Homo sapiens: one gene and its partners. The protein of the gene in region 1 purifies or fractionates together with the protein of each later gene. This does not show direct contact. Each region holds a gene or a part of one and is shown on either strand. Other genes may lie near its edges.

What was found.
Region 2: the proteins of EIF4B (region 1) and EIF3B purify together in Homo sapiens (affinity purification with mass spectrometry; 3 studies listed by BioGRID and IntAct, with this or other methods). This does not show direct contact.
Region 3: the proteins of EIF4B (region 1) and EIF3H purify together in Homo sapiens (affinity purification with mass spectrometry; 3 studies listed by BioGRID and IntAct, with this or other methods). This does not show direct contact.
Region 4: the proteins of EIF4B (region 1) and EIF4G1 fractionate together in Homo sapiens (co-fractionation; 4 studies listed by BioGRID, with this or other methods). This does not show direct contact.

What each region holds. Positions count from the first base shown.
Region 1 is NC_000012.12:53,009,432-53,016,457, reverse strand, and holds part of EIF4B (eukaryotic translation initiation factor 4B), read right to left. Parts: intron 1-7,026. UniProt on the Homo sapiens protein: Required for the binding of mRNA to ribosomes. Functions in close association with EIF4-F and EIF4-A. Binds near the 5'-terminal cap of mRNA in presence of EIF-4F and ATP.
Region 2 is NC_000007.14:2,364,826-2,371,851, reverse strand, and holds part of EIF3B (eukaryotic translation initiation factor 3 subunit B), read right to left. Parts: intron 5,536-7,026; coding exon 5,404-5,535; intron 5,328-5,403; coding exon 5,261-5,327; intron 4,919-5,260; coding exon of another isoform or gene 4,895-4,918; exon of another isoform or gene 4,880-4,894; intron 4,854-4,879; coding exon 4,807-4,853; intron 2,381-4,806; coding exon 2,170-2,380; intron 76-2,169; coding exon 3-75; intron 1-2.
Region 3 is NC_000008.11:116,745,818-116,752,843, forward strand, and holds part of EIF3H (eukaryotic translation initiation factor 3 subunit H), read right to left. Parts: intron 1,310-7,026; exon of another isoform or gene 1-1,309.
Region 4 is NC_000003.12:184,324,580-184,331,605, reverse strand, and holds part of EIF4G1 (eukaryotic translation initiation factor 4 gamma 1), read right to left. Parts: intron 6,729-7,026; coding exon 6,492-6,728; intron 6,338-6,491; coding exon 6,233-6,337; intron 6,127-6,232; coding exon 5,967-6,126; intron 5,911-5,966; exon of another isoform or gene 5,835-5,910; intron 5,756-5,834; coding exon 5,655-5,755; intron 5,080-5,654; coding exon 4,977-5,079; intron 4,726-4,976; coding exon 4,623-4,725; intron 4,391-4,622; coding exon 4,158-4,390; intron 4,021-4,157; coding exon 3,902-4,020; intron 3,777-3,901; coding exon 3,604-3,776; intron 2,976-3,603; coding exon 2,850-2,975; intron 2,698-2,849; coding exon 2,616-2,697; intron 341-2,615; coding exon 242-340; intron 135-241; coding exon 1-134.

The DNA of each region.
Region 1 (7,026 bases):
AGAGAAAGATTATTCACCAATACTCAGGTATTTACAGAGTTGTACAATGCAATATTGTAAAACATTATTTAGAAAGAAATAACATGGACGCTCCTCAAATGGTTAAATTATGGCATTTCCATGAAGGGGTACTATGCAGACATAAATAAGAAATTTAAAAGTTGCAGAATACCTATTATGTGTAAACACATGTTTACGTACGGAAAAGGGTCTGAGTGTTTGAGATACACCCTGGAGAGTATGTTTGGAGTGTGGGGGCAACCTTTTATTTTCTACTATATTCACTTATCATTTGAGATCTTTAATTTTGTAACTACTTCTATTCAGTTACTACTTTCACTGCTCTTTGGATAAAAAAGATCAATAAAAATTCGTATCTCACATAACATATTCAGTATGGCAGTTTTGAAGACTGTTTTGACACTTGTAAACAAACCATATAGGGAAGGAATCACAACTGTCTTTTTTTTTTTTTTTTTGAGACAGAGTCTTGCTCTTGTTGTCCAGGCTGGAGTGCAATGGTGCCATCTCGGCTCACTGCAACCCCTGCCTCCTGGGTTCAAGCAATTCTCCTGCCTCAGCCTCCCGAATACTTGGGATTACAGGCACCCGCCACCATGCCCAGCTAATTTTTTGTGTTTTTAGTAGAGACGGGGTTTCACCATGTTGGCCAGGCTGGTCTTGAACTCCTAACCTCAGGTGATCCTCCTGCCTCGGCCTCCGAAAGTGCTGGGATTACGGTGTGAACCGCCACACCCGGCCCCATTTTTTTTTTTTGAGACAGGGTCTTGCTCTGTTGTCCAGGCTGTAGTGCAGTGGTGTGGCCACGGCTATCTGAAGCCTCAACCCTCCCATGCTCATGTGATCCTCCCACAGCCTCCTCAATAGCTGGGACCACAGAGGCACACTACCACGCCCAGCTGATTTTTAAAAAGTTTTTTAATTCCCTATGTTGCCCAGGCTGGTCTCAAGTATCCTGGAGGATCCCAGGCTCAAGTGATCCTCCTGCCTCAGCCTCCCAAAATGCTGGGATTACAGGTATGAGCCATGGTGCCTGGCCACAACTATCAATTTACAGAAAAGGAAACTAAGTCTCAGAGAGGTTAAGTGAAACACCAGATGTCTGTAAAGTTACAGAGACATTAGATGGCTAGGCTGAAGATAAAACCTAAGTTTTTTTCATACGAAGTCTAAGGCTCTTTCTATATACCAAGGTATCCTTGCATCTCAGCAGCTTATTCTATGTCAGGTTATCAAAACCACAGTAAAACGTACTGCTATTTGAAAGTGTTCAAATGTTAACAGTCATATTCCCTAGATCTCTCTGCCCTCTAGAAAAAATGTCCTCCTCTACTATAACAACACTGCATATGAGGATGTAATGCTAAAAGGAAAACACACGAAAACCCTAATAACCAACACATTTAAGTGTTTCCCACAGTTATGGAATATTTAGTAATCTCCAAATGGCTCAACTTAGTGAACTGACACTGCTCTTTCTTTGTGGTCCTCAGAACTTCCGAGAAGTCACCACCAATCAAGAGCTGATTCAGAAGAGCAGAGGGACTCAGTGAAGTTCCAGAACTGGCCTGATAGCAGCCACTACATGATTAAGAAAAAAACAAGCAGCTTTGTTGTAAAAAAGATTGGCTTCATGGTTTTTATAATCATGAATTTCTCCTCCATGTTCCAATTGTCACCTGATTTTTAATCCAAGAATATCAAACTTGATGTACCCCTTTGTTTAACTGAAGGTTGCTTTCTCACTTGGTATCCCTTTCTTTCAAAATTTAACTTTCAGGAAATAAAGGTAACCAGTTTGCTATGAATGTTAACACATAGCCTTCTGGACACAATTAGAACCTGAAGTATTACGGTCTCAATGTGCAAACCAGATGAACCCGGCTAAAATAATCAAAGTTGACCACGAACATGGTATTTTCTGTATCTCTCAAGTGACTTAATATTAATCCAGCTCCAAAAGTATTGTTTATGATCAACCAGATCACATTTTGAATCCATCCTACGCTTTTTTTTTTTTTTTTGAGACGGAGTCTCGCTTTGTCATACAGGCTGGAGTGCAGTGGCGCGATCTCAGTTCACTGCAACCTCCGCCTCCCAGGTTCAAGCAATTTCTCCTGCCTCAGCCTCCCAAGTGGCTGGGACTACAGGCGCGTGCCACCACGCCAGGCTAATTTTTTTTTTTTTTTTAGTTTCACAGTGTTAGCCAGGATGGTCTTGATCTCCTGACCTCGTGATTAGCCTCCCAAAGTGCTGGGATTACAGACGTGAGCCAACGCGCCCGGCCTGCTTTTTCTTTTTTCTTTTTTTGCAGTGGTGCAATCGTGGCTCACTGCAGCTTTGACCTTTTGGGCTCAAGCAATTCTCCCACTGTAGCCTCTTGAGTAGCTGGGACTATAGGCATGCACCACCATGCCCAGCTAATTTTAAAATTTTTTGTAGAGGCAGGGGTCTTGCTACACTGCCCAGATTGGTCTTCAACTCCTGGCCTCAAGTGGTCCACCCGTCTCAGCCTTCCAAAGTGCTGGGATTAGATGTGAGCCACTGCACTTGGCCTTATTCCACAGCTTTCAAAGAATACGGTTACAGAGAGGTTGGGTCTCATAGCACTTTTATTGCTGCAGCTCATATGCAAAGGTTTTTTTTTTTTTTTAGAGGGAGTCTCACTCTTGTCCAGGCTGGAGTGCAGTGGCGCCATCTTGGCTCACTATAACCTCTGCCTCCCAGGTTCAAGTGATTCTCCTGCCTCAGCCTCCTGAGTAACTGGGATTACAGGCATGTGCCACCAAGCCTGGCTAATTTTTGTATTTTTAGTAGAGATGGGGTTTCACCATGTTGGCCAGGCTGGTCTCAAACTCCTGACCCCAAATGATCCACCCACCTCGGCCTCCCAAAATGCTGCGATTACAGGCATGAGCCACTGTGCCCAGCCTCATATGCAAAGATCTATGGGAGATTTTAATAAGCGAACACGAGTAAGACATGAGGTAAACCACTTACAGTGCGTGGGCTTATTTTAGACTTTTTCATATCATTTAATTCAAAAATAGTGTCTGGGATTAATATGATGCTAGCTACAGATCCTTACCCTCATGGGGCTTAATCTAGTACCATCAGCTAATATCCAATTATTAACCTGTCCTTCCACTGGGAGGATAAAAACAGAACTGGTGGTCAGTACAATAAGGTCAAGTTCAACAAAAGAACATTAACAATCTGAATAAGGTATCCCTTTCCTCTTTGTTCTATATACGTATCTTCTACCAAAACAGCAGAATGTGGAATTAATCTGCCCTTTAGTCCGATTTGGCTTAAATCAACTTTGTAGATCACAGTTTCTCAACTCTCACCCCTTGACTCCTTTGACAAACAAGTTTCTTCTTTAACGTTATTTGAAATTTCCAAACAAATTAAATATCATGACTAAAAAATATTAAAAGCACTTTTAAATCTTAGAATGTCTTTTCAAATCACAAGTCTCCCCCTCCTCTGATTGCCACCCACTCCCAGGCCCTCTGGTTAAGAAATTACTGTTGGGTGTGGTGGCTCACGCCTGTAATCCCAGCACTTTGGGAGGCCGAGGCGGGTGGATCACGAGGTCAGGAGATCGAGACCATCCTGGCTAACATGGTGAAACCCCGTCTCTACTAAAAATACAAAAAAATTAGCCGGGCATGGTGGCGGGCACCTGTGGTCCTAGCTACTCGGGAGGCTGAGGCAGGAGAATGGCGTGAACCCGGGAGGCGGAGCTTGCAGTGAGCTGAGATCGTGCCACTGCACTCCAGCCTGGGCTACAAAGCGAGACTCCGTCCCCCACAAAAAAAAGAAAAAAAAAAAAAGGAAAAAAAAAAGAAATTACTGTTGGATAAGTCTTTTTTTTTGAGACAGAAATTTTGCTCTTGTTGCCTAGGCTGGAGTGCAATGGTGGAATCTCGGCTCACCGAAACCTCCGCCTCCCGGGTTCAAGCGATTCTCCTGCCTCAGCCTCCCAAGTAGCGAGGATTACCGGCATGCACCACCACACCTGGCTAATTTTGTATTTTTAATAGAGATGGGGTTTCTCCATGTTGGTCAGGCTGGTCTCCAACTCCCAACCCCAGGTGATCTGCCCGCCTCTGTATCCCAAAGTGCTGGGATTACAGGCCTGAGCTACTGCGCCCCACCTGTTAGATGAGTCTTAAAAAAACAGGCTAAAATTCCTTACAAGATCTTCAACTTATTTAACTGTAGCAGCAGCACTGACTCAGTCAAAATATAAGCAGCAGGTTTAAAGGAATTAGCCCTTGGAAAGCAAAATCAATAAACCTAAAGTAGGTGCCCGTGTTTGTTCCACTCCGTTTCATTCCAGTTAACTGAGAAAAGATGTTATCTAAATCCTCCATGCCCTTTGCTCCCTCAATACCTAGGCCCATTACATGTTTAGATTTCAACAGTGTTCCCTCTGCTTTATAAGTAAAGCACTGTTTAATGCTCCAGGTTTATCAATCCTTTGCAATTCAACAATGAACTGGTCCAATTCTTTAATTTTCTCTAAATCTTATGTGAACTGGTTAAAAAGTTAACAAATCAATCACCTCACAAAACAAAACCTGTCCCAATTATTTATACATGGTCTACAGTGGGGAAAACACACCTCCAGCTCTTTATATACCCATACAGGTTTAATAAAAGATCTTAAAAACGGAAATATTGCTAAGTCCAGAAGCCGTTAAACAAGAGACAACACATTCATGGTTTTCTTAATAAACAGGATTTGTTATAATAGATACTAAAATAAATACAGCCTACTTCTTAACTCAGAGTTTCTCTATCTCAGCACTGCTGATATTTTAGCTTAGGTAATTTGTCATGGGGGGATTTTAGCAGTTATCTCTGATTCTGCTCATTAGATGCCAATAGTAATCCCCGATCCCCATTCCACTCTGACAACCAAAAGCGTCTCTGGACACTGCCAAATGCTCTGGGGTGGGATGAGGGTTTGGGATGAAAAGACTGTCCCTTAGCTGAGAACCATGTTCTAAGTGATGTTTCACTTCAATAAATAAAAAGATAAATGAAAAGGAATTGTTAGTCCTATATAAAGGACTTTTCTTTGGGGGTGATAAAAAGGTTCTGAAATTAGATAATAATGATGGTTGAACATCTCTGAATATACTAAACCCCACCAAATCATACAGGGTCTTGCTCTGTCACCCAGGCTGGAGTACAGTAGTGAGATAATGGCTCACTGCAGCCTTGACCTCCAGGGCTTAAGCAATCCTCCCACTGCAGCCTCCCAAGTAGCTGGGACCACAGGTACATGCCACCACCCCTGGCTAATTTTTAAAATTTTTTTTGTAGAGACGTGGTCTCACTATGTTACTTAGGCTGGTCTTGAATTCCTGGGCTTAAGTGATCCTCTTGCCTTGGCATCCCAAAGTGCTGGGATTACAGGAGTGAGCCACTGCACACGGTCCAAACTGTATACTTTAAAAGTGTAAATTTTATGGTATACAAATTACATTGAATAAAGCTGTTACTAAAAGTGAGTTCTGCCACATTCTCCATAATTAAAAGCTACTTTAGGCCAGGTGTGGTGGCTCATGCCTGTAATCCCAGTACTCCGGGAGGCCAAGGTGGGAAGATCACCTGAGGTCGGGAGCTCGAGACCAGCCTGGCCAACATGGTGAAACTCCATCTCTAGAACCGCTTGAACCCAGGAGGTGGAGATTGCAGTGAGCTGAGACCACGCCACTGCACTCCAGCCTGAGCCATAGTGAGACTCTGTCTCAAAACAAAAACAAAAACAAACAAAACAAAAGCTACTTTAAATAATGAATAACAAATGTTTCCCTAAACCAACAACATTGCATAAACACAATCGATCCACCCAGAGTGCCTAGAATTAGACTAATTATATTGGTGTTTACAGCCCAGCCATGAAAAGACATTTCATGCAATGTAATACAATATTTCACCTTCACCTTTACTGCACTATATAGATGCTCCCTGACTTATGATGAGACTGTCAGGATAAACCCTTCTCAAGTAAAAAAATGCATTTACTATCCGGATAAACCCATTGTAAAGTCAAAAAGATCCCAGTGCAAGCCACCTTTTGATTTAGTTGGGGATTGGGTAAGTTTAGCATAGTAAAGACTGAGTCAAAACTCATAAGCTCCACCATCTTGACCCCCGTACGGGTTCAGTTACATGACCTCTCTGTGCCCAATTACTTCATTTTGACAGAAGATGCCATACTACCTTTTCCTTATCCCTCCAGGGATACTCAATTTGATCATATACATAATCAAACAAAATAAGTGCCCAATGCATGCCATGCTAACCATTACACAAAATGGGAGACAGGAGGTACACAAATTCAAGTTAAACTTCTTGATTTGGTACTTTCCCACTATCAGGACCATAGCAGTATCTACTACAAATTTAAGAAACTGGCTCATAAATGTACATAAGGCAAACCTAATTACAAATAATTACTTAAAATACTGTACTCAAGTTCAGTTATTTCCTCTACCATCACGAAAAGAGAATTCCAGAATGTTTTGAGATGAAATATACCTCTTTTTTCAATGACATTACTTAGAAACACTGCTTTATCTTAATTGACACTATTCTGTATTTGTATTTAAACTTTCATAAAGAGTTTTAATTTTGGCCTTCTGGGTATCTTACTCACAGAATAACATATACATGATAGAGGATGGAACTTGACACTAGGGAATCTGTAAGCAATATATAATGGCACCCCTTAAAACCATTTCACTGTGAGAGTCAGCAGTGTATGAAAACAACCACTGCAGAGCATCTTCTCCCTATAAAAATAATCAAATAAGATGTCACACAGGACTGCATTTTGAAGCATTATGGAAATGAAAGGCCTGTGCATGAGCTTACATATGTTATTTCCAATTTTAAAGTTTGTTTTTGTTTTTTTTTTTTGAGACGGAGTCTCGCTCTGTCGCCCAGGCCGGAGGGCAGTGGTGCAATCTCAATTCACTGCAA
Region 2 (7,026 bases), on another chromosome or scaffold:
GCCTTTCATCTCGACCACATCCACAGGTACCTGTTTCTCCCTCATTCGGAAAATTTCAAAATTTGTGACAACACCCTGTTTAAAAAAAAGGGGGAAGGGGTGACATTCTGGACAGTGAAAATATGAGAAAAGGTTTAAATCAAAGATCAACGTCACAATGAAAGATTCAGTGTGCATGCCTGGTTCACACACGAGCATGTGCAGTGATGAAAGCCACAGCCCTCAGGATGGAAGACGGTTCTAAGGCTGGAGAACTGCCGGCACCACGTCTACTGGAAGCCACTGGACATGCATGAAGTAACTCTGACCCAGATCCCACCTCCAGGAGCCGCCCTGCCCGCCACACTTGGGCACAAGCAGTCCCAGGGTCCACACTGCAGGCTGCAGGCCAGGGTCCTGAGGGCCCTAAAGGCACACCAATGGGGCTGGGTAAACCACTTCAGACAGTGGGGTGTCCTGTAGCCATAACCTTCAAGAAGTCCTGCCCTACTCGAGGAGTCTGAGGGAAAACTGCCCTGATGTCCATCAACAGAGGAAGGAGGCCAAGAAACGGGGTCCACCCAACAAGAGATTACTGCTGACACTCAGCACCGTGGACCAGCTGTGGGAACGCTGTGCTCCGTGAAGGAGGTCAAACACAGAAGGTGGCATAGTATCCGATTCCAGCTGTGTGTTCAGAATAGGGAAATCATAGACATTCGTGATGCCAGGAGCTGGGCGGAGAGGCTGCTAACAGGTATGTTGTTTCTTTGTAGGGTGACAAAAACATTTATTTATTTATTTATTTTTGAGACGGAGTCTCACTCTGTTGCCCAGGCTGGAGTGCAGTGGTGCAATCTCGGCTCACTGCAAGCTCCGCCTCCCGGGTTCACGCCATTCTCCTGCCTCAGCCTCCCGAGTAGCTGGGACTACAGGCACCCGCCACCACGCCTGGCTAATTTTTTGCATTTTTAGTAGAGACGGGGTTTCTACTAAACCCTCGATCTCCTGACCTTGTGATGCCCCGCCTCAGCCTCCCAAAGTGCTGGGATTACAGGCGTGAGCCACCGTGCCCGGCCTTTTTCCTATCTTTTAAAAATTATCTGTGGAGATGGGGTCTCACTGTGTTTCCCAGGCTGGTCTGAAACTCCTAGCCTCAAGCTATCCTCCCTCCCACCCCGGGGGAGCCACCGCACCCAGCCGATGAAAACGTTCTGAAATGAGTGGTGGTGGCTGCATAACTCTGAACACACGAAAAACCACTGAACCAGTTCACCACTCTAAAGGGGTGTTTTCAGGCATGTGAACTACATGTCAATTAAAGCTTTCTTAACATAAAAGAAAGAAGAATACTTCTATTAGAGGGAAAACTCAGGAATTTCTTTTTTTTTGTGAGACGCAGTCTGGCTCTGTCGCCAGGCTGGGGTGCAGTGGCGCAATCTCGCTCTGTTCACTGCAAGCTCTGCCTCCTGGGTTCAAGCGATTCTCCTGCCTCAGCCTCCCGAGTAGCTGGGACTACAGGAGCCTCCCACCACGCCCAGCTAATTATTGTACTTTTAGTAGAGATGGGGTTTCACACCACGTTGGCCAGAATGGTCTCAATCTCTTGACCTCATGATCCGCCCACCTCGGCCTCCCAAAGTGCTGGGATTACAGGCATGGGCCACTACACCCAGCCAACTCAGGCAATTTTTTGATAAAATAAATATTAAATGATCAACCACCAAAAATAAAAAAATAAAAAAATAAATCTTGAGTATACTACTCCTTGTGCTTAGAAAGAAAATAATATTCTCAGCCAGGCACGGTGGCTCACGCCTGTAATCCCAGCCCTTTGGGTGGCCAAGGCGGGCAGATCACCTAAGGTCAGGAGTTCAAGACCAGCCTGGCCAACATGGTGAAACCCTGTCTCTAATAAAAATACAAAAATTAGCCAAGCGTGGTGGTGGACGCCTATAGTCCCAGCTACTTGGGAAGCTGAGGCAGAAGAATCATTTGAAACCAGGAGGCAGAGACTGCAGTGAGCCGAAATCGCACTCCTGCACTACAGCCTGGTGACAGAGTGAGACTCCATCTCAAAAAAAAAAAAAAAAAAAAAAAAAAAAAATCCATTAACACCCTCCAAACAATACGGTGGCCACTTCAGAGCTCAGGATAAGGAATCGTCAGTTCCTGTGGGAATCTACATACCTGGGTGCCTTTCGGAGTCCTATCTACTTTCACACACAAGTAGTCTCCGTTCTTCTGCCAATGGAGCTTGCAGTCCACCACATTGAACAGGTTCCTCACTCGGATCTCTTGCCTGGTAGGGAGCTGCATCAGGGTTACCCTGGCTGGAATATCTTTGTCTTCAGGCACCCAGAAGGCGATTATGTTACCACCAGGAGACCAAGAAAAGTCTCTGCAGAACAGGAAAATAAAATGTTAAAGCAAAGACCAAGTGATGACGAAACTGAAAAGCAGAAGAGAATAGAACAACTCATTTGCTATATAGAAGCTCAATGCTGTCACAGCTGACGCTGAGCGCTCCCTCTGCACAGCCACTGCTCTGGGCATGCCGCGCAGCTTCATAGGTCCTCGCCAGGACCCTGTGGCACTACTGTGCTCACTGTGACAAGGAGTGAATGCAGACAGAATATTAGCAACCCCACCATCACGCACAGACTCATATGGACTCCAGCCTGGGCTCCGTCAGCCCACTCTTAAGACACCGCACACTGCTGCTTTGAGGCAAATAAGTTTTAGGCTGACGGATCTGGCTACATGTCATCTAAAGATTAATTAAGGTGCAAATGGGGAAAATGGCAAATCAAGTGTAAGGAATGAGCAAGAACAAGGGCAGCTCCCTCCACTTTATCAACTACTCTACAGAAGAGCTGCTGTAACGAACGGCTCCTGAGCTCACCTACATGAAAAACATCTTTATACACGCTATGTGCTGTTTTGCATTTTTTGAGAACCAACGTCCTGGTCTTTTCATTTTATAAGCCATAATTTTGCCCAAGAATGTAAAAACGAAAGAAGAAACGTCAATGTCCTTGGATTGTTGGAAGTTCACTGCCGTGATACTGACCAGTCCCAAGTTTTGCGATAAATAAAAACGTGCCCATTCTTTGCTGGTGAAAATGAGCCGAAGGCTCCCCAAACCCTGCCTCGGATGGAAGAGTACCAGGAAAACCTTTCACCTAAGCAGAGTCCCCTCTTTTCCTTAAAAGGCTGGAAACCCCACCCTCCTCAGTTTCTAGATCAAAGACGAGGTAGATGGAAGGAAGCCGACTCAAGGCTCTGGCCTTGAAAATTCATTTCTAGGCACGGGAAGGGGTCACTGAAGTGGTGCCTCAAGGGTGGCGGGCCCAATGCTGAGCAGCCTTGCTGCCCACTGACTCAAGCCTCCATCCTTGTGTCCAGAACAAACTCACCTTAGGCCGGGCGCGGTGGCTCACACCTGTAATCCCTGCACTTTGAGAGGCTGAGGCGGGCAGGCGGATCACTTGAGGTCAGGAGTTCGAGACCAGCCTGGCCAACATGGTGAAACCCCGACTCTTCTAAAATATACAAAAAATTAGCTGGGCGTAGTGGTTGCGCGCCTGTAATTCCAGCTACTCAGGAGACTGAAGCACCAGAATCGTTTGAACCTGGGAGGTGAAGGCTGCAGTCAGCCGAGATCACGCCACTGTACTCCAGCCTGGGCAACAGAGTAAGACTCTGTCTCAAAAAAGATTTAAAAATGGCTGGGTGTGGTGGCTCACGCCAGTAATCCCAGCACTTTGGGAGGCTGAGGTGGGCAGATCACTTGAGGTCAGGAGTTCTGAGACCAGCATGGCCAACACAGTGAAACCCCATCTCTACTAAAAATACAAAAATTAGCTAGGCATGGTGGCAGGCACCTGCAGTCCCAGCTACTTGGGAGTCTAAGGCAAGGAGAATCACTTGAACCCAGGAGGTGGAAATTGCAGTGAGCCAAGATCTCGCCACTCTACACCAGCCTGCAAGACAGAGTAAGACTCTGCCTCAAAAAAAAAAAAAAAAAAAAAAAAAAAAAAAAAATTTTAAAAAAAGAACAAACTCACCGTTTTCTCTCCAACTGGTTAAGAACTGAGTGACAGGCTGGGCATGGTGGCTCACGCCTGTAATCTCAGCACTTTGGGAGGCTGAGGCGGGCAGATCACAAGGTCAGGAGTTTGAGACCAGCCCAGCCAACATGGTGAAACCCCATCCCTACTAAAAATACAAAAATTAGCCGGGCTTGGTGGCACATGCCTGTAGTCCCAGCTACTCGGGAGGTTGAGGCAGAAGAATCACTTGAACCCAGGAGGTGGAGGTTGCAGCGAGCCAAGATCGTATCACTGCACTCCAGCCTGACGGAGCGAGACTCTGTCTCTAACAACAACAACAAAAAGCTGAGTGCTAAAGGAGAGACAGCAAATAAAGGAAACCAACTGCAATGGACCACGTCTGTGTCCCCCAGATTCACAGGGTGAAATTCTAACCCCCTGGGGTGACGGCATGGGGTGGGGCCTTTTGGGGGGTGGGAGGTCCTGAGGGGGAAGCCCTTGGGAATGAGATGAGAGACTTTACAGAACAGGCCACGGAGGCCTTCCTCCAGGGAAGGCTGGACCGAGGGGCTGTCCACTAGGAGGGAGGTGGGCCGTCACCAGACAGTCTGCAGGCACCCTGACCTCAAGCTCCCAAGCTCCAGAACTGGGAGAAAGAAATCTCAGCTGTCATAAGCCACCCAGCCTATGGTATTGTGTTTTTTTTTTTTTTTTTGGTATTGTGTTAAGCAGCCTGAACACACTAAGACACCAAACTGATAAGAATACTCACTTTATCCCAGAGATCTTCAAACTCTTCTTGTCCAAAAGACCCATAGACTGCCCAAAAAAAAGGAAGGCTGCAGTTGAGTCAAATCATGTCAGTGTCTCAGAAACACACCTAACTTTTTACAAAAGGAAACAAGAGTCTGATGTGAGTTTGCCTAGGGGGCAGTGCACACAGAGCGTGACAGTGAACCCATCCACCCACCCGCCACCCAGAACTGCAGTTCTGAAGCCCACTGCATTAACTCCCATCCAGGACTTCCCACGGCTGCGCCAGGTGGGCAGGAGTGACTGAAGAGCTCTGCCCAGAGCAGGGGCAGTTAAAAAGGCACAGGAGACAGGCCTTTCCTATGCATCTGTGAAACCTCCTCCTCCTCTTCTAGCACAAATAAGGAAAGGCACCACACCCCGGTTACAAGCAAGGACCGGACGGGGCGTTTGCCATCACTGAGGCCACTTACAGGAGTTTCATAGATGCTAAGCGTATCCAGGGTCATTCTGGCAAAGAATTTGCCATCATGGCTCCACCTAAGAAAAACAAAAGTGCCAGGGTATTCCCATGAAAAGACAAAGGCTACAGAGCTCGTTACAATGGTCCACTTACTTAAAAATAGGCCAATGGGCTGAGCTCTCACAGTGAAAACCCCTCTTCTTGTGCCCCGTAAGGATGTCCCAGATGATTATGGCCTGAGGGTCATCCTGCGTGTCCATCAGGGGGCTAAAGGTCACCAGGTACCTAGAAGAGAAGGGCAACACTGTACACTATCCTCCTCTCACGAGAGGATCACAGTCTGTCTGTGCGGCCAGAACACGCCGTCAGAACTCGCGGAACCAGCTCTCTCCCCAAACCCCACACTGCCCGGCCCCAAGAGACCCAAGCGGAAGCGGGAAGCAGCGGCGCTTGTTCATTCTGGTGTCAATACGCTGCAGGCGCTCCGGTTTCTCCAAGATCAGCACAGAAGATCTCACCGATCCCACACAAGGCTGCTAAGTGATCCAGAGGGTGGCGCAGTGTGGAACTCTATCTTTACCCATGTTTAATAAAGACTAACAAGTTAAAAAAATACGGCTGGGCGCAGTGGCTCACACCTGTAATCCCAGCACTTTGGGAGGCCGAGGTGGGTGGATCACCCAAGGTCCGGAGTTTAAGACAAGCTTGGCCAACCATGGCCGACATGGTGAGACCCTGTCTCTACTAAAAATACAAAAATTAGCCGGGCGTGGTGGCAGGCACTTGTAATCCCAGCTACTCAGGAGGCTGAGGCAGGAGAATAGCTTGAACCCGGGAGGTGGAGGTTGCAGTGAACTGGTATCGTGCCACTACATTCCAGTCTGGGCGACGCATGAAACTCAGTTTCAAAAAAAAAAAAAACAAAACAAACAAACAAACAAACAAACAAAAAAACAAGTCCCATCCAGTTCGAAAGCCAGCACAGGTCTGATAGAAACTTCAGAGCCTGGGGGCTCCTCCCAGCCATGATTTACCTGACTGCTGGCTTGTCTGGAGCTACTGCACCTGCTTACTCAGTTCACACAAAGTGTGTAACAGACGGTCCCTTACAACACCAGAGGGGAAGGCAGACACAACCCATGAGGGCGAAAACAGAGCGGCCCCAGCTCGCCTCGCACTGCCTTCCACAACTGCCCCTTTCCCTAGAGTGGCCCCCGTTCGCCTCACACTGCCTTCCACAACTGTCCCTTTCCCTAGAGTGGCCCCAGCTCGCCTCACACTGCCTCCCACAACCGCCCCTTTCCCTAGCAGGCCTCCGACAGCCGGATTAGCTAGATCAAAAATCACGGCTCGGCCAGGTGCGGTGGCTCACGCCTGTAATCCCAGCACTCTGGGAGGTCAAGGCAGGAGATCACTTGAGCCCAGGGGTTCAAGACTACCTTGTACAACAAAGTGAGACCCCCATCTCTACAAAAAATAAAATTAGCCATATGTCATGGCGTGTGCCTGCGGTCCCCGCTACTCAGGAAGGCTGAGGTGGGAGAACCGCTTGACCTGGGAGGCTGGGGTTGCAATGAGCCTGCAATGGTGCCACTGGGTGGCGCCAAGCCTGGGTGATAGAGGAAGGACAATTTATTATCTGTAAAATACGTGACCTTAGACTAGATCCTGAACTGAAGGAAAGTAAGTATTATACAGAACATTATTAGGTCAAGTAACAAAATCAGAATATGGCAATACATTGAAGTATTAAATGAATGGTAAATCCCTGAAGTC
Region 3 (7,026 bases), on another chromosome or scaffold:
CTGAGGGGCACGAGAATCGCTTGAACCTAGGAGGTGGAGATCACAGTGAGCCAAGATCGGGCCACTGCACCCCAGCCCGGTCGACAGAGCAAGACTCTGTCTCAAAGGAAAAAAAAAAAAGGAAAAGTCAGATGGACTTAGAATTACCACCCAATGCAGGTAAACTAACTTACTTAGGGACACGTACCAGTACTCTTCCCAATGCTCCTTAATATGCTGATTTTCTTTACTATTGATCCCCAGTATCTTAATATGTGAACTCAGCAGTTTAAGGTTGCATTTTTCCAAACTTCAGAATATTTACTAAATTGACTTCTTATAGCTACAAATCTTCTACAATATGACTGATTATCAAACGTAAAGATTCTAATGTATGTTTTCTCATACATTTTAAAGTTAGAAGTCTGTAAGACACCTGAGTTCTGAAAAACATATTTCCCAATGCTCAAACAAGAAGCACTAGATTAACTATTCTGTACACACCTTAACTTCTATTTCCTCCATCTGTACATTAATCAAATCACATAAACTATTTGTACCCACGTCTCCCCATTGATAAAATAGGGATAATGATGGTTCCTATATCAAAGAGTTGTTGTATTGCTTCAATGCCATAATAAATACACAATACTTAAAACAGTACCTGTCACATAACACAGAATAACTACTGGGGTCTTCAAGTATATGAAGCTGCTATAAAATGTAAAAGAAAATGAGTCAAGGATGGCTAGATGTGATCTGAATTCAAGCTCCAGGATATATTCACTTTATGTCTTTGAAAAGCCACCCAGCTTCTTGGAGTGGGAGAATCACATGTATAATCCAGATAATACTAGTCCGCCCAGTTCCTGGAGCTACCAAGATATAATAATGTACGCTAAATGATTTTTCTATTATAAAAAGTTACTATTTGTAAGCAATAACATCTTACTTGCCTAAGCAAAAAATATAACTAAGCAATCAAAATGTCAGACTGCATAACGAATTTAATCCTCACTCACAAATACTCAGGTTAGAGATAATCCTGCATAACTGGTTTTTCACTCACAGCAAAAAAAAACCTGAAAAGCAAGGGGATAAGAAACAGATAAATTTAACAACCAAAAAAGGCACCAACTAGAAACATAAACCACTCAAGGCACCTAAAGTTCAACAACAGGGGACATTTATTATAGAAATAACAGACTACCCGAAGGGATTTCTTGACAGATCTACTGTCCTGTCTGGTTCAATAACATGTTTTTTTGTTTTTTTGTTTTTTTTGAGACAGAGTCTCTGCCTGTCGTCCAGGTTGGAGTGCAGTGGTGTGATCTCGGCTCACTGCAACCTCTGCCTCCCAGGTTCAAGCAGTTCTCCTGCCTCAGCCTCCTGAGTAACTGGGATTACAGGCATCCGCCATCATGCCCGGCTAATTTCTTTTGTATTTTTAGTAGAGATGGGGTTTCGCCATGTTGGCCAGGTTGGTCTCGAACTCCTGACCTCAGGTGATCCGCCCACCTCAGCCTGCCAAAGTGCTGGGATTACAGGCGGGAGCACGGCCCAATAACATGTTCTTAATGATAATACTATGCCATCAAAACATGGTTAGATTGTGTTCCATGTTCTCTGACTAAAGCAGCAGAAAATTATGTATTACACTTCAGAAACACATATAATTAAAATAGCTAAAATGTGCAAGTTTTGGTGCTTGAAAGGATTTCAAATTATCTGACTGAAAAAATTATCTCACATGTCAAACAACTTACGTATGCACCACTCAAGTCAGAAAACTGGAAGAAGAGGCCAAGGGTCATATAATTTTTTTTGTTGTTAAAACATTAAAAGGCCAAACTGTATTATACTTCAGACCAGGATCTCAGAGAAGAGCTTCCATTTCAATGGAATTTAAACAAGCTGTTGTCCAGTCTCTTTAAATTCATAAGAGTATCACAAAAAATCTACAGTGACACATGTGATAGCCTGGCATTACAAATTCGAAGTATTTGATTCAACTCACAAAGCATTCCCACCAGCCTGCTGCGGTGGCTCACACCTGTAATCCCAACATTTTGGGAGGCCAAGGTGGGTGGGTCACCTGAGACCAGGAGTTCGAGACCATCCTGACCAACATGGTGAAACCCCGTCTCTACTATAAATACAAAAAATTAGCCAGGCGTGGTGGCGCATGCCTGTAATCCCAGCTACTTGGGAGGCTGAGACACGAGAATCGCTTGAACCTGGGAGGCGGAGGTTGCAGTGAGCCAAGATCCACTTGAACCTGGGAGGCAGAGGTTGCAGTGGGCCAAGATCATGCCATTGCACTCCAGCCTGGGCAACAAGAGCAAAACTCTGTCTCAAAAACAAAAAAAAAAACAAAAACAAAACAAAACAAAATAAAAAACAAAGTACTTCCACCAAAATTTTTCCATTAGATTTGAATAACCATCAGGTAGGTAAGGTAGTGATAACATTTATCCCCAAAGCTGTTGTGAGGATCACAACATCTAAAATTTAACAAAAAATTTAACCAAACAACACAAAATTTAACCAAACATCCCTGTACAGGGTCTTATAATAGGTGTCCAATTAATATTAGTGATTTTTCAAACAGATAAGAAATCAACAAATAAAAAGATGGAGAAATATGAACAAGCCCAGAAAGCTAACTAGCTTATCCTCAACTGTGTGCTCTTTTCTCACCAACACTCAAGCATTTACTAACCCAGTTTCTTCATGATTGATTTTCAAGAAAATTTCCACACAACAGGAGTATATTCATTCATTCACAACATCTGAGTGCCTTCTATACACGAGGTACTGTTCTAGACCCTTAGAAATACTGTAGTGAACAAACCTGACATGGGTGCCACTTTCAGGAAGCTGATATTCTAGTGTGAAGAAATAAGCAACAAGTAAAAAGAGTTTCAGACAGAAACAAGGACCAAACTGGATACCAAAATTCGCAGATGCTCAAGTCCTTTATATAAAATGGTGTAGCATTAGTTATTGCATATAACCTAGGCACATCTTCCTATATATCATCCCTAGATTGCATATAACATTTAATACAATGTAAATGCTATGTAAATAATTATTATACTGTATTGGTTTTTATTTGTATTTTTAGTTGTTTTTTTCCTAGTATTTTCGATCCATGGTTGGTTGAATCCATGGATGTGAGATTGCTGGATTCAGAATCCAAAGATATAGAGAGCTGACTGTATATGTAACTCATACTTTTCTATTTATTAATAACATACTCTACCTTACTTACAAAACCAGGGGAATAAGGTATCTAATAAGATAACTTAAAGGGGAAAACAAAATTTAAAAGGTAAGAAATTTCAATAGCAATGGGTTTCAAGCACTGAATTATGGAGGAGACAAATGTTTTATACTTCAGCCTTCAAAAGGGTTATCATCTCAATGAGAAGGGGAAAATATATTAACAGTAAATCACTAACAGTATGGATCACATACCAAGGTGAATGATACAAGCTGTCATTAAAAAGCTCAGAGAAAGGAAGAGAGCAAGCTTCTTCTCAAACAGTAAAATGCTATAAATCACCTGATTGTGTAGGTCAGGAGAGGGGCCTGAGATTCTGTGATACGTATGTCTGCATTTCTAACAAACTCAAGTGTAGCCAACATTGCTCATCTTACTGGACATGGATCATACTTTGAATAGCAAGGTCTAATGAACATAAGAAAGGTAAAATTCAAATGTTCTAGGGAACAAAGTGGGTTCAACATGAAAAGTTTAACGGGAAGAATTAGCTTGATCTTGTCTAGGAACAATGAGACCACCTGACAGAATGAAGACCCATTCTTTCTTTATTTTTGTTTTTTTTCTTTTAACTCATCTGTATTTGTTACAACTTTAAGCAGAATGTGACTCAGGCACTACATTTCCATCCACAAGACTAGCTCTGAGTTATTTTTGAACAGCTTTACGACATGCTTAGGTAGGCTTATAACTTTGCTCCTCCAAATGATACTTTTCTTTGGAAAACAAGCCCTGTGGAGGGCTTACTTTTCTTTGGAAAACAAGCCCTGTGGAGGGACTGCTACATTACAGATACAGAGGAAGTGATGAAACAGGTCTAAAGGTAGGAAAGGAAGGGTTCAAAAATACAAGAAAAATTGGTCTTGGCCACTATCAATGTGCCAGGAAGGAACAAATGTGTTAAAACATCAGGCTAAACATAGGATGAGATTAATCTCTGGGTTCATCTACATCTATATATGACTGAGAATGGTCATGAGAGTCGGGACTGGGTTCTACCTTGCTCACCTATATAATATCTTATATAGGTTACTGCAATATACCCCAGCATGTAGCAGGGCTAGACCTGGCATGTGGTCGGCAATCAATAAATATTTGTTAAATGAATGAAGAACAGAATACATCTGGAGTATACAGATTCAAGTTAAACTATATGGAGAATTTTTAAAAAAACAGAGTAAGTCGATTAAGTCACATTTTTTATTCAATATGTGATGATGAAAGAGAACAATTTCAAAGAGAAAGAACTTCATGAACAAAAGCAAGGTCATGCTTACTGCTTTGAATAAGGATGTGACTCTAGGTCTGTCTTTAGCATGACTTTTTTTTTTTTTTTTTTTTTTCTGAGACGGAGTCTCGCTCTGTCGCCCAATCTGGAGTGCAGTGGTGCAATCTCGGCTCACTGCAAGCTCCGCCTCCCCGGTTCATGCCATTCCCCTGCCTCAGCCTCCTGAGTAGCTGGGACTACAGGCACCCGCCACCACGCCCGACTAATTTTTTGTATTTTTAGTAGAGACAGGGTTTCACCATGTTAGCCAGGACGGTCTTGATCTCCTGACCTCGTGTGATCTGCCTGCCTTGGCCTCCCAAAGTGCTGGGATTACAGGCGTGAGCCACCACACCTGGCCTTTAGCATGACTTATTAAAGAAAAAACTAAGTAGTCTGAGGGGCTGGAATGTACAGTTCCTACAAAGCTTGGAAAGAAAGGAAATAAACCTGAACATAAATGCAAGAAACAAGGACAACATTTTGGTCCTTCAATTCAATGGAAAGTCACTGAAAACATCTAAGGAAAGAAGTTAAAATCTGAATGTTCACGTTAAATAAACGTTTTAATAAAAGTATGAGGCCGGGCACGGTGGCTCACGCCTGTAATCCCAGCACTTTGGGAGGCCGAGGCGGGCGGATCACGAGGTCAGGAGATCGAGACCATCCCGGCTAAAACGGTGAAACCCCGTCTCTACTAAAAATACAAAAAATTAGCCGGGCGTAGTGGCAGGCGCCTGTAGTCCCAGCTACTTGGGAGGCTGAGGCAGGAGAATGGCGTGAACCCGGGAGGCGGAGCTTGCAGTGAGCCGAGATTGCGCCACTGCACTCCAGCCTGGGCGACAGAGCGAGACTCCGTCTCAAAAAAAAAATAAAATAAAATAAAATAAAATAAAATAAAAGTATGAATGGTAGACTGAAGAAGGCAGGGGAAAACAATATTAAAATAACCTGCATAAGATATTAGAACATAAATTAGTATAAATAATAAAATGGAATACATACTCATTCATTTATCCTACTTTGTGAATTAACAGGTTCAGCACTGGAGATAAAACAGGTGAAAAAGCATAGTCCCTGCCCTCAGTAGCATACATTCTGATGAGGAAAACAAAGAAGAAAACAAACAAGATAGTTACAGGCTGTGGAAAATTCTAGAAATATAGGGTGCTGTGATGGAAAGTAAGGAGAAGAACAAGTCTATAATTCTATTTTGTACATGTTAAATATGAGATGCCTATGAGATATCCAAATAGTGACGTCAAACAGGCAATGGGTATTCAAAAGAGGCATTCAAGAGCCATTACTGGCAGAAATATAAATCTAGGACTTATTAGAATATAAATATTTAAAGCCGTGAGCACAGATAAGAATACCTTAAAGAATACTACTATAATTACTGCAAATAAAGCAGCAGCAAAGCTTAAATGGTGACTTATTCTGTCCCAGACATTGTTCTAGTTATTGACATATATTCAATCCATTTAAAGTCTCAAAACAATTCAGATGAGGAAAATGAGGCACAAAGACTTGCCCAATGTCATGCAGCAAATTTCAGAGCTGGGATTCAAATCCAAGCAGTCTGGCTCCAGAGCATGTACTTTTATCAACTTCGTTACACTACCTATGTCAAGCAGAGACTAAAAGAAAAGCCAAAACCTAAACCATGAGGCACTCCAATATGCACAGATGGAGAAGAAACATAAAAGGAAAGGAGTAAGTGGCCTAAAAGGAAGGATAGTGATTGACTGGGGTCACACACCAATAAGAACCCTCAGGATTCAGGTATGAAAGCAAAAGAAAGAAACCATAAACCATGAAAATTGATAGGGATAGTGGCAATCATTTTGTGGATGAGAAAATGTACCTTTGGAGTAAAACAATCATAGAAGTGTTGTTAGTTACTGGTGGATGCAGACTGGAATGCATGTCTCCTGATTACCAGGAGCACTGAAGTGCTCTTTCTACAATTCCAATCTACATTAGCAAAGTTAGCATTCGAAATGATTTGAGAAACATTAATAAGGATGAGAGTGGTAAAGACACAGTAATCTGAGTGTTTACGATGACACAGGTACTATACTAAACACTTTAAATACCTCGGAATTTCATTCTCACAACCCTTATGAGTTACTACTTTATCATCATCCCCATTTTACAAAGGATACACCTGAGGCCTAGAAAATTTAATAACTTCCCCAAGGTCATGCTTACTGCTGGAATAAGGATCTGAATCCAAGTCTGTCGTCAAGATTCTCTTGGCTAGTATGTAATATTGCTTTCCTAAGAGTAACACTGTTCATCAAGACAGAAATGAAGAAAGAAAGAAAGAAAGAAAGAAAGAAAGAAAGAAAGAAAGAAAGAAAGAAAGAAAGAAAGAAAGAAGAGAAAGAAAGAAAGAAAGAGGGAGGGAGGGAGGGAGGGAGGGAGGGAGGGAGGGAGGGAGGGAAGGAAGGAAGGAAGGAAGGAAGGAAGGAAGGAAAGAGAGAGAGAA
Region 4 (7,026 bases), on another chromosome or scaffold:
TCTATCCAGTCGAACACCCGCTGGTTACTGCTGCCCTCCTTCAGCAGCTTCTCCAGCTGCCTGTTCAGCTCCTCGGAGGGGAGTGCCCTCTGGCCAGGGGCTTCCGACTCCTCTCCCAGGGTATACTCCACCTTCTGCAATGGAAAAGGCCCGCAGTTAAGAGGTAAGGTTGCCAACAGGAGACAAGAAAGAAGACTGGCCAGCCTCAAATGCTAGAATTAACCCAACTCCATCCCCAAACCTGTTCAGCGACGAATGCACCAATGTCCTGGCCTTCAGGTAGAAATTCCTTCCAGCTAAGCCCGGCTTCTCGCCACAGCGTCCCCACCTTTTTAGGACCCTGGAAAACACAAGACCAACCCAGCTTACCAAAGCTCTCTCTCTCCAAGGACCCAACAGCTCTACCACATTAATCCAACAAATATTTACTGAAAGCCTACTAGGTACTTGCTAGGCATTAAGGATGCTATAGAAATACTAATAGGCAAAGCCCTTCCATTCCTACGGTCTGGTGCAGGGCACAGATGTCAGTCAAATAACCACCCAAATAAATAAGAACTCGTCCCAGGAGCGGGCGGTGGCTCACGCCTGTAATCCTAGCACTCTGAAAGGTCGAGGTGGGCGGATCACCTGAGGTCAGGAGTCGGAGACCAGCCTGACCAACATGGTGAAACCCCGTCTCTACAGAAAATACAAAAATTAGCCAGGCGTGGTGGTGGGTGCCTGTAATCCCAGCTACTCGGGAGGCTGAGGCAGGAGAATCGCTTGAACCCAAGGCGAGGGTTGCAATGAGCTGAGATCACGCCACTGCACTCCAGCCTGGGCGACACAGCGAGACTCTGTCTCAAAAAAATAATAATAATAAAATAAAATAAAAGAGAACTTGTCCACCAAAGTGCTATGACACTAGGGTAGGAAAAATGATGTAAGGGCCTCTAGGAAGGGACAACTTCTAACAAGTATGCTTGTTTCCTAAACCCAGAAAATCTTAAGACACAAATATACCCCATCCCTAACACAAATAAAAAATCCTCATAAAACCAGCAGTCTGAGTGCATTTTCTGTAAGGGGCAATAGACTATGAAGACATCACTCTTTTCTTTATAACAGACTAATGGCACTGGCTCTTAGCAAGATTATTGCAGTTCACAGATTTTAAAACATGCCCATTTTTTCACATTTTAACTAAAAGTTGTCTTACAGCCGATATATATCTTTTTTTATTTTGAGACAGAGTCTTGCTCTGTCGCCCAGGCTGGAGTGCAGTGGCACAATCTTGGCTTACTGCAACCTCCCCCTCCTGGGTTCAAGCAATTCTCCTGCCTCAGCCTCCCAAGTAGCTGGGACTACAGGTGCGCACCACCATGTCCAGCTAATTTTTTTGTATTTTTAGTAGATACAGGGTTTCATCATGTTGGCCAGGCTGGTTTCCAACTCCTGACCTCACGTGATCCACCCACCTCTGCCTCCCAAAGTGCTGGGATTACCACGCCCGGCCCAGTCTTTTCTTTCTTAACAGCGCATAAAGAATGTCTTATAATCTATGGCACCTTGGAGTTGATGAAATACACAAATAGTTCAATATGCTTATTTGTTGTTAAAAAACAACTTGTCCTGGTACACGTCTATTTAAAAGAATTAAATGATGTTGACATAACAATTCCTTTAAATCCCAAGTGTGATTCCTCCAGGTTCCAGATGGCTGAACCCTTGAAACTGCACACACTCACCCCAACTTCTCACTTCCACTAAGTACCACATTCAACTTACCTTTCCCCATCTCTTTACCTTTATATTCGCTAGTTACCAATTAACTTTCACAAAGCCGCTTCAGCACCCTGAAAGCCTCCTGTCACAAATATTGTCAAATATTCCTTTGCAACCCCACAGTACTTAAGATACTCCACTCTATTTCAACTGTTTTATGTCACGCTTTACTGTTGTTTTTATCAAGCTGTCATTTCTTTTTTCTTTTTTGGAGACAGAGTCTTGCTCTGTTTCCCAGGCTGGAGTGCAGTGGCACAATCTCGGCTCACTGCTACCTCCGCCTCCCGGGTCAAGTGATTCTCCTGCCTCAGCCTCCTGAGTAGGTGGAATTACAGGCACCTGCCACAACACGGCTAATTTTTGTGTTTTTAGTAGAGATGGGGTTTCACCATATTGGCCAAGCTGGTCTTGAACTCCTGACCTCGTGATCCACCCACGTCGGCCTCTCAAAGTGCTGGGATTACAGGCGTGAGCCACTGCGCCCGGCCCATTTCTTCCTTTTTCTCTACCAACTTGTTTCTTGTGTTTTATTCATTGCTGTGTCCCTAGTGCTTAGTATATGATAAATGATCATCAACAAAACCCTAGTTCAATGAATGAATAAATAAATGCATCAATCACAGGCCTAGGGTCTTAGACTGCCATTCTCCTCCAGTCTTGGCCAGAACTCATGATAGGAACTGGTGTGCGGGAGATGGCCCACCTCAGTATTTCCTCTCCCAGGTACCAACACAATCCTGTCATCACCATCACTCCACTCCACCAATGGACCATGAAGCTTCAGGGCCACAGCAAACAGCCAAAACCACACCGTGGGAGGCATCTCTGGACTCCTGGCCCTCACTCACCATGCTTTTGCACAGGAGGCCCAGGATCTCCAGCAACAGGGAAGCAGCTTTGCCCAACGGTCTCAGAGGCTTTGTAATCTCCCTACAAGAAGAGAAAAACCTAATGCTGACAGCCTCCACAGTTCTCTCACCACTACTCCATCTCCCTCCAAACCAGGGTATCCAACCCAGCCATTTCCCTACCACCTTTCCTCTGGTCTTTACCTCCCCTGAATTCCACCCAGGGGGACTTACCTGAACAGCTCCCCCATGGGCACCCCACCTTCCTGCAGAATGGGTGTTACCAGTTCCGCTAGGTAGAGCCACACGTGGGGGATGTCAATTTCCATGTCCTCAGCCAATTCCAAGATTTCATACAACCTGCCAAGGGAATTCAAAGTCAAGACATTCTAGGCCAGGTCCCCACTCTCCTTCTGGGGCAACGTGGCATGGCTAGGGCATCAACTATGGAACCCCCAGGAACATTTTCTAGACATGGGGACAATTATTTCAAGCTAAGGCCACCTCTGTGTCCTTAGATGGTTTTCACCCCGCTTAACCCCCTAAAGTTATGCTGACCAGGATGGTCAAGGAACCCATACTGTTTTTTGGTTTTTTTTTTGAGACAGTTTTGCTTTTGTCACCCAGGCTGGAGTGCAATGGCACGATCTCGGCTCACTGCAACCTCCACCTCCCGGGTTCAAGCAGTTCTCCTGCCTCAGCCTCCGAGTAGCTGGGATTACTGTGCCACCACGCCTGGCTAATTTTTGTATTATTAGTAGAGACAGGGTTTCACCATGTTGGCCAGGCTGGTCTAGAACTCCCAACCTCACGTGATCCTCTAAGGAATCCAACCCACCTTGGCCTCCCAAAGTGCAGGGATTACAGGCATAAGCCACCACACCCGGCCAGGGAACCTACACTCTTATGCAAGGTTCCAAGGGTCCCAAAAAGGAGATAGAAAATTGTGGGTCTGTATAAGTGGGAGGCCCAGAGAAGCTGGTCATACCCTTGGTAGTACTGAGCAGTAGACAGATGCCCAGCACAGAGCAGCTGGTGCAGCAGCTGCCCCATATGCTCACGAGCAATGGCACTGCGCTCCAGCGTAGACTCGACACCATGCCGTACAAAGATGAAGAGCAAGGAGGGTGAGGCCAGCTCCTGCACGCACTGGACTGCCTCCTGAGGGGTGCAGGGCACAGCAGGAAGAGACCAGTCACTGTCTGACCCAGACCCCGGACCCCTATGCCTGCCAGCATGATCCCTCCCTGCCCACTCCTCAATCACACGCCGCTCCCACTGCCTACTTTCATGTCATTGAGATGGAGATATTCCTCAATGATAGCCTTGGATTTCTTCTCTAACTCCTCCTCAGAGAGAGCCGCCTTCAGGGGGCTCACTGGGGGTAGGGCAGCTTCTCGCTTCACTGTGGGAAGAGAACACAGATTAGAGGGACTTTTCAGTCTTCCCAGCAAACAAGATTTGGAGCTCTCAAAAAGCTGGGGACCAGCTAGTCCCAAGGCAGCCAATGCCTTTCCCTCCATTCCTCTCCCAGACTCTCACCGGCATCCCGCCCACGGTCCCGATCCTCCGTGAGGCTAGCTGCCTTGCGCAGCCCCTCAGGCTGGGAGGGCCGTTCTCTACTCCGCTCCTCCACTTCCTTGCTGAAGCTCCGCTTGGTAGCAGGTGTCCGCGCACGATCAAGCCGGTCCCCACGGTCCCCTCCCCGTTCACTCCGCTCTAGGCGGTCTCCTCGGTCTCCAGCTTTCTCGCCTCGTTCTCGGCTCAAGCTACTCCTGGAAGACAGACAGACAAATTTTCACTCACTTGCACTGCCCAGGCACTCATGTAATTACACAACATGCTGAGCAACTGTTGGGCCTTGTTCTTAGCATAATGAGTATGCCCCAATCTAACCCAAGGGCTCCAACCAGGACAGGTATGAAGAAATTTCCAACCTATGGCAACAACCAGAACCCAATCACGGTACCCCCAGTGTGAATAACAAAGATGTCCAGGAAACCTCACCTCTGCACCACACGTCTATTATCTGTGCTTTCTGTGGGTACCGCTTGTTGAAGGGCTGAGAAGCGATTCAAAGTACTAGTAGCTGGGCGAGCAGCTTCTGATGCTGGGGATGCAGAAAATCCGTATTAAAATCTTTTTCTCCTTTCCTGCATTTTATCCCCTACTTGCCAGTTTAGGACACTTGGTCCCAGTCCCAAAAGTAAAGCAGTTCAATCCCTGGAACCACAACACAAACCTCCTCTATTGCCCGCATTGCCTAACCACCTTGTACTGAAGGCCTCCCTAACAGAAAAGGCTCTGTCCTCAAGGGAGCTCTGACGGGTAACCACCCAGCTCCTGACACTGCCTCCATACCTGCGTCTGAGGGCTTGGCTCCTGAGCCTCCGCTGCTGCCCTTGCCCCAGCTCAGTCGCCCTCCAGGTGCAAAGAGCTGGTTGTTAGAATCGATGGAGCCAGGCTGAAGAAGAAAAGGGGAGTAGAATCATAGGTCCAACCCGGCTGAGTCCCTTGGCCAGCACCACCATATGCAACCAAACAGGTAGTGAATGGCCCAGTCCAGGGGTCAGAAAATCTTTTTTAATAAAGGGCCAGTCTCTATTGCAACTACTCAATTCTGCCACAGTAGCATGAAACCAGCTGTAGATGATAAAGGCATGCTGTGACTGTGTTCCAATAAAACTTCATGGACACTGACATTTACATTTTATTTAATTTCCACAGCATAAATTACCATTCACTTTTTGATTTTTCGCAACTTTAAAATGTAAAAACCACTACTGGGTCCTGGGATGTATGAATGGGCTGGATCTGGCACGTGTGTGTGTGTGTGTGTGTGTGTGTGTGTGTTTGCCAAACACTGGTCCAGACTAATGGGAGTACCACCCTCCCTCTACAGCTGGCAGTCCTGTCTCCAGCAATCCAACCAGTTAGTCTAAGAGGAAACATTCAGCTGTCACCTTCTCAACTTTAGAAAAGTGAAGGGACTAAGATCTAAACCTGAGCTGAATCACCCACTCCCACACACACCCCTACCTTGGTGATCTTGGTGAGTCGTGAGGTGTCAATGGGGCGGCTACCTTTGCTGATGGGAACTGTGTTCCAGCCACCATCATCCACAAGGGGAAGTCCACGGCCTGACACAAAAAGAGGGGCATACTGGAATAATGAATAAATCCTAGCAGCCCCTTCCCCTTGGGCCACCCCCAGCCTCCCTTCCTCAGATCCTCAGTTCCATCATGGTGTCTCAGTGGCCCAGACACGTGGCACTAACAGGAAGTCATCAGAGGAAAGTATAACCTCCCGGTCCCTTCACTGCTCCCTTCTCAATCCCAGCTTGGAACTCACTGATGGGAGGGCCTGGAGGACCGCCCCGACGCTTGTCACTGCCCTTGGCCATGAGCTGCTGCACTTTGATGTGCTCTCGATGTTCTTCCATCTCAGCCTCCTTATGGATCTGGTCAATGGTCTTGGGACCCTGATCCCCTCGGCGTGGCACCCAATTGCTCTGTGGAGACAGAGGGCCAGTCACGATGATGTCAGGGAAGGCAAGACAAGGCAGTGTCAGAAACTGGAGGCAGCAGGCTGGCAGTGGGGAGGAGGGGGACACACACCCCTCGCAGATCCAGCACGTCCTGCAGCATAAAGCGGATGCGGGATGACGTCTTCTTTTCTTTAATGATTTTTTCCATCTGGTTGAAATACTGATCCATTCGGGGCTAGGAAGGAGAAAGGCATCAGACCAGGAACTTCTCATGTCCCACCTATAACTGCAGGCCCCACCCCTCCTCAGGCCTTCCGCCCCATCATTGTGGGCTCAGTGAGCCCCACATATGCTTCAGCCCATCCCCCTCCAGATGCAAGGACCTCTACCTTGGCTTTTTCAAAGTCCAGGTCTTTGCCAATGGTGGTGAGCAGACGACAAAGGCACTCAAGGGACTCTTCATCATGGTTCTTAAGCAGTTTGACCACACAGTCATGCATTATTGCCTCTGTTAACATCTTCAGTTTGAACAACTCTCCAATAAACTTGATATTCCCTAAAGAGCGCCGCCGGGCTATGTCCCGAGCCTCTTCCAGCTCTTCCTTCAGGCGTCCTCGTTCCTCTGCCTGCCATTCACAGGACAGGGATTGTGTCAAAAAGATAACCAGCCACTCGGCTAAAACCCTTTTCTACCTGGATATCCAAACCTAGCAATAAGCACTCAGTCCTGAGGCCGGCTGGCTGGGCATAGTGGCTCATGCCTGTAATCCCATCAATTTGGGAGGCTGAGGCAGGCGGATCACTTGAGGTCAGGAGGAGTTTGAGACCAGCTTGGCCAACATGGTAAAACCCCGTCTCTATTAAAAATACAAAAAAATTAGCCAGGTATGGTGGCACATGCCTGTAATCCCAGCTACTTGGGAG